Linked DNA regions of Homo sapiens: region 2 is linked to region 1. Evidence: fine-mapped expression QTL. A gene starts in region 1. The other region holds a variant in brackets. All regions are shown on one strand. Distances are between the middles of the regions.

What was found. PIP is the estimated chance that this variant, and not a neighbour inherited with it, causes the effect. A credible set is the group of variants that fine-mapping cannot tell apart.
Region 2: its variant is the best candidate, but not a certain one, in a credible set for the expression of TMEM178B in aorta (GTEx, PIP 0.72).

The regions. Positions count from the first base shown.
Region 1 is chr7:141,072,318-141,075,218 of GRCh38, forward strand. It overlaps TMEM178B (transmembrane protein 178B), which reads left to right and starts at 1,747. Exons shown (of 4, transcript NM_001195278.2): 1 at 1,747-2,375. The coding sequence starts at 1,994.
Region 2 is chr7:141,395,021-141,397,921 of GRCh38, forward strand. All of the region lies in intron 2 of TMEM178B (transmembrane protein 178B), which reads left to right. Among named protein-coding and RNA genes, the nearest start is that of AGK-DT, 150 kb to the right of the region's middle. The variant G/T (reference allele first, on the strand shown) is at 1,378.

The DNA of each region.
Region 1 (2,901 bases):
TTTTCCATGGCTGAAAAGAGAAACAGGAGCTGTAGGCAACATCCCTAAATTTATAATAATGCATGTAAACATGCTACATACCACATATATGTATATGTGCATAAATATGGATGTGGTTGGGCACATACCTATCTAGACACCATTGACTTGCCTGGTCAAAGAATAAGACTTAGACATTTCGTGCCTGGGAAATGGTGCAGTTTATCTTTAAGGAGACTAGAAAAATAAGAGATGAGGCTCACGTTGCACGGATGACATCACTAGCTTTTGGCTGCGCGCTCGGTGTTCTCGTCTGTGGGTTTTAGCCAAGGCTGCAGCTACCCGCGCCGGACGAGAGAGCGCGGCAGCAGCTTCCTCCGGCGCCCGCACCCGGGCAATGCGATTTCCCCAGTCCCCTGGGCGCAGCCTGGGCTCTCGCGCCTCCCGGGCACCAGCCGAGCCTGCGAGGCCTCGGAGCCGCCGCGGCTAGAGGAGGAGGCGACGAGGGGAAGCCGAGTGACCCAGCCTCCCTCCCCCACCCTCTCCCCATTCATCTCGGCGACCACCGCGCGCCGGGAGCCGGATCGTGGGACGCCGAGGCCAGGACGGGATTCTCTGCACGCTGTCGAGTGAGCCGGCATCTCGGCGCCCGGGTGGGCTGCGAAGAAAATGGTGCAATCTGAGAGCGACTGAGCCCAGCTGGGCAGAGCAGACGGGGTGCCAGAGTGCCAAGGGCTCAGGTGCCTGGAGAAAGGGGCGGATTGTTTGGAGGGGCCGGGACCGGGGTTTTCTTCGGTGCCTGCGGCATTTTCTTTGCACCTGGGCGGCAGGCTCCCGGGGCTCCCGGGTGCCAGATGAAGTGAGGCGGAGGCGTCGCGGGAGAGCCGGGTCCGGAGGCGGTCGGGTGGACACTCCAGGCAGAAGACGGCGCTGGGAAGAGCTGCGTGACGCTCGGGGGCTGGCGGCTGGGCCGGCAGCGCGCCGTGGCGGCGTGACCTGTCCATGGTGTTGAAGGCGCGGTGGGCCGAGCCCCTAGCGCCGCGCGCAGTGAGCGCTGCCTGGTGCACCCTCCGCCGCGCAGCCCGCCCCTCGCGTCCGCCAGCAGCCGCCCAGTCTCCGCAGATCCCAGGCCGGGTCTCGTCCGGTAACGCCGCCCGGGTGAACACGCTGTCGGCCCGAGGGGCCGCCTGAATGGCGATGCCAGAGGCAGGGCACCGGGGAGCTCGCGGGGAAAGGTCGGCCGAGAGCGTGCGTCCGCGGGGAGTGCGCCTCTGAGCGCAGCACGCGGGTCAGAAGGAGCAACCGACCTGCTGGTGACCAGAGAACGGAGATTTTAAGAGGACCCGACCCAAAGAGGAAGAACATTTCTGGGTGCGCGCCCCAGGTCTTTGCTTGCAGACGGGGAGGGGGAGAGGCTCTGAGCCAGAGACCCAGGAGGGACTCCGAGAAGCCGGCCCCAGCACCTGGAGGTTTCTTTCGCCCGCCGGCCGCATCCGGGGCGTTCTACTTCACCCGGTGGTCCAGTGGCGCCTCCTGACAGCACCCCCCGTCCCCCTCAGAGAGACAGGCGAGTTCTGTCCCGTCACCATCCTGCACAAAGAAGCCCCACCGCAGCCGAGGACACTTGGCATTTAGTTTCCGGCCCGAGGGCAGCGGCGCCCGAAGCCGGGCTGGGAGCCGAGGCGGCTGCTTCGGGGCAGTCGCTTCCTGCGGGGCGGGGAGGGGGCGGGAGGCGGCCGCGCTGGGTTCGCCGCCGCCGGAGGCTGCACCTGCCTCAGAGGATGCCCAGGAGCCCGCGGGAGCCTCTCCGGATCAGAACTTTTTAGGCCGCCCGCCCCCATCCCCGCAGTCCCCGGGCCGTGCTCCGGTAGGCGGGGGCCGAGGGGGCGCCGCGGCGCGAGTCCCTCTCCTGCCCCCTCCCCCAGCTCGGCCGCCCGCCGCTTTGTTCCGGGTGCGGCGAGGGAAGGCGAGGCTGCGGCGGATCATGCCCATGGTGTAGCCGCCAAGCGGAGGCATGGCTGCCGGAAGGTTACTGCTCTACACTGGCCTCTCGCTAGCGCTCTGCGCCCTCGGCATGCTGGCCGTGGCCATCTGCTCGGACCACTGGTACGAGACGGACGCCAGGAAGCACAGGGACAGGTGCAAGGCCTTCAACACCCGCCGGGTCGACCCCGGCTTCATTTACAACAATAACAACAACTTGCCGCTCCGGGCGAGCCGCTCGCGCCTGGACCGCTGGGAGGGCAAACTCCTCCGGGCCCGGAATCGCCGGCAGCTGTTCGCCATGAGCCCCGCGGACGAGTGCAGCCGGCAGTACAACTCCACCAACATGGGCCTCTGGAGGAAGTGCCACCGGCAGGGCTTCGACCCCGAGATCGCCGCCCTCATTCGGAAAGGTAAGCGCCGGGCGCAAGGCGTGGCGCTGCGGAGAGCCCGGCGCCTTTAGGCCCCGCAGCCCCTCGCGTCTCCTTCCCAGGCCACAGGCTATCAGGTCTCTGGGTTCCAGGCGGTCCGGTTATCCAGGCCTGGCTGAGCCTCGGGGCCAGGACTTGCCTCCCAATAGCTGTTAATGAAGCTTGGTGCAGGCTTAACTCTCTCCCCTGCCTCTCCTTTCGCGCGTCTCTGTCGGGATTCGAGTGGAACCTCATGGTCCAGGGTTCTTATCCAGGATAATGCTTCATCAGCCTCTGAGAAGAAGGGAATCTGGAACGTTGTTTGTGCTCTTAAAGGAAGCCCTTTAGGAGTCATGTGTCAGGGGTAGACAGGTTCCTAATTTTTGTTGAACTGATTTAATCAAGGAAAATTGGGGGAAACATTTCACAGAGAAGGCCTTATTCATACCAGAAACGTTTGCTGAGCGCTATACTATACCAGATATGGTGTAGGCACTGGTCATATAAACATCAATAAATCACAGCCCCT
Region 2 (2,901 bases), 320 kb after region 1:
CCGCCTCTTCACCTGCAATGTGACCCTCTCACTCCTGTTTCCAATTGCCTTGTCCAGACACTGGGCAGTCCTCCACTGCTGACCCCTGGACACCTACTTGTTTTTATCTAATCATCCTGATTCTAGTCCCTTAGTATCCATAGAAATTTGGCTGCAAATATACTCCAGGAGAATCTACAGAAGGAATCCACAGAAGTGTAGAGCAGTTACTAAGAATTTCCAAACCTGGGCAATATGGTGAAACCCCATCTCTACAAAAAATACAAAAAAATTATCCACACTTGGTGATGAGTGCCTGTAGTCCCAGCCACTTGGGAGGCTGAGGCAGGAAGACCACTTGAGCCCAGGAGGTTGAGGCTGCAGGGAGCTGGGATCATGCCACTGCACTCCAGCCCAAGCGACATAGGGAGACCCTGTCTCAAAAACAAAATCAAAAAGAATTTCACCTCACAAGTAGATAGCATTGCTCAGTTTCCAGAGTTTCCTTGTTTTGGATCTCCTCAGAAGCTCAGAGGAGGAGCAGAGCTGGTTGGTTACTCTCTTCTTAGGACAAGGAAGCTGCAGCCTAGTGACATCAGAGGTCTCCCCAAGGCCTCCCTGCCAGTCTTCAGTGGTTCCAGAACCCGAGGTGATGGCGTCTGGCTCTGTCCTCACTCCACCACACTCTGCTCCCCCTCAGTCAATGGCAAATCAGCACTGTATATTCATGTGCTTATTTATACACATATGGATTTCTATATCAGGGGAATGGGAGAGAAGGATGGGCATGGGGGTTGGGAATGGGTTGGAACCAGAGAGCTATAATTCATCCTTTCTCCCACACAAACCACTGAAATACCACATATAATAAACAGCGTCACCCACAAAATGCCATGATTATACAGCGTTGCTTCATATTCAGGAGGAGAGGGAGGGGGCGGCACTAATTAACAGGTGGATTTGGGAAATTTACAACATACTATTACTGGTAATAGAATTATCTTCACCCTTAGTCATTCAAGGAGATACGGGGATCCTCCCAGCTCTGCATCTGGCCATGCCCTGAGAGAGAGAGTGATGCAAGGGGCTTGGGGGTGCTCACCAGCTCTCTCAGAGAGGGGAGGTGGGGAGCCAGGCAACAGCTCAGGGTTGGGGGTGGCCATGCCATCACAGCAGGGAAAGAGTGGCATTGTCAGGCCAGCACGCCTCACCTGTTGGGCATCCCAAGTTGTTCCCAGTCTTCTTGCGTGCCTCCCCTCCCAGGAGTTTGCTGCCCAAAATCCAAAGTAAGAAGAGTAAGAATCTGTTTCAACATGTTAAAAGAGGCAAATACCCTACCACTTTCCCATCGCCCATGCCTACTCCCACCTGCCACTCGCCTGCCTTTTTCCCAAAGGC[G/T]CCCCATACTTACTCTGCTGTGCCGCAGGGGTCCCTGGTTCTGCGGCATTTGCCGCCTTGAAGGTCTTTGAGAGCCAGAATGACCTTCAGGGCTCAACGGGTCTGGGCCTCTCATACTGCAGAGTGGAAAACAGAGCCTCAGAAAGATGAGGCGACAGCGCTGGGACTAGAAAAGTTTCAACCCACGCTTGGGCTGACCACTGCCTTTCTTCCTCCCATCATAATATCTGCATCTGTTCACAGGCTAGAGGCTGCTCCATATGTGGCCTCAAAGAAGAGAAAAATGGGATAAGGTTTAAGGAACAAGACACAGACAGTGGGCACAGTGACCCATCTTAGCAGTCTGTTAGATGTCCACATGAGCCCAGAGAGAGGATAAAGAAGGTCAGCATTGCAGAGTGGAAATGAGAGACAAAGTGATAATGGAGCTGGTAAAAAACACACTTCAACAGTCGCTGAGGGTTGGGGGTTGTTGAAATCTCACCATCAATTCTGTATGGGGACAATAGCTCTCCAAGACATTTGTGATTATTGTCATTCATTCAGGAGAGAAAAAGAGAGCCAACAGGACAAAATGTCATCAAAATTGAGCTTGGTTTTTTGTCCCATGAGCATTGTTGAGGAGGGAAACGAGATGTGGGAATAGTGTCACTATTACTGCCATCATCACCGTAAGAACACCATGGGGTCAGCTCACGTTCATTGAAGGTTGAGGGCTGCACAGAAGATGAACTTCAGTTGGTGCCTGAAGTAATGAGATCGTGGAATTTTCTGCCCAAAATCATAGTGATTAACTGTTTCATCCAGCTTCTTTCCCCCAGAAATGGTACAGTGAGAGAGGAAAAATAAAAACCAATTTAAGTAAGCAGAGCCTTGAGAGACAAGAAAAGGTTCTTCTCTTGAGTAATTTTTGGACTTCCTTTAACATGGGAATCCTGAGGCCATTTGTGCTGTGAAGATCCCTCTGTTGGCAAATCAGGTCAGGAGTAACGTCACTTCCCTGAGTCAGACCTCTCCAGCAAGCCCTGAGACGGACGGACCTTACCCAGAGCCACCAGCCTCCAACTTAGAATGAGCCATGGTCTGGATTTTCTCCATAGTAGGTGACTTGGAACTTGGAACACATTTTCTGATAGGCATCATGCTATGAATGGCAGACAGGTTCTCCAGCCAGTGAGTAAATACCCGTCAGCCCATTTGTAACTGAGCTGGGAGTTAGGAGCCCTGGATTCTGGTTTCAGCTCTGTCACTAGCTACCTATGTGATATGAGCAAATCCTTTAGTTACTGCCCCTGATTTTCTCACCCCAAGTCTGATTATTTCTCTCTATTGGCTAATATAGAATTTAATTGCCATTAGGAATACTTTCATAGGAAGCTATATTCCAATTCCTCATGTGTAATGACAAGAATGCATCTCTTCGCCCACCCGAGGCAGAGGCAAGGAAGTTCTGCCCCCACTGTCCCCAGCAGCCCAGAGCCTGGCTGCAGTAGTTATCGGGCAAATGGGGACTCAGAAGAGAGC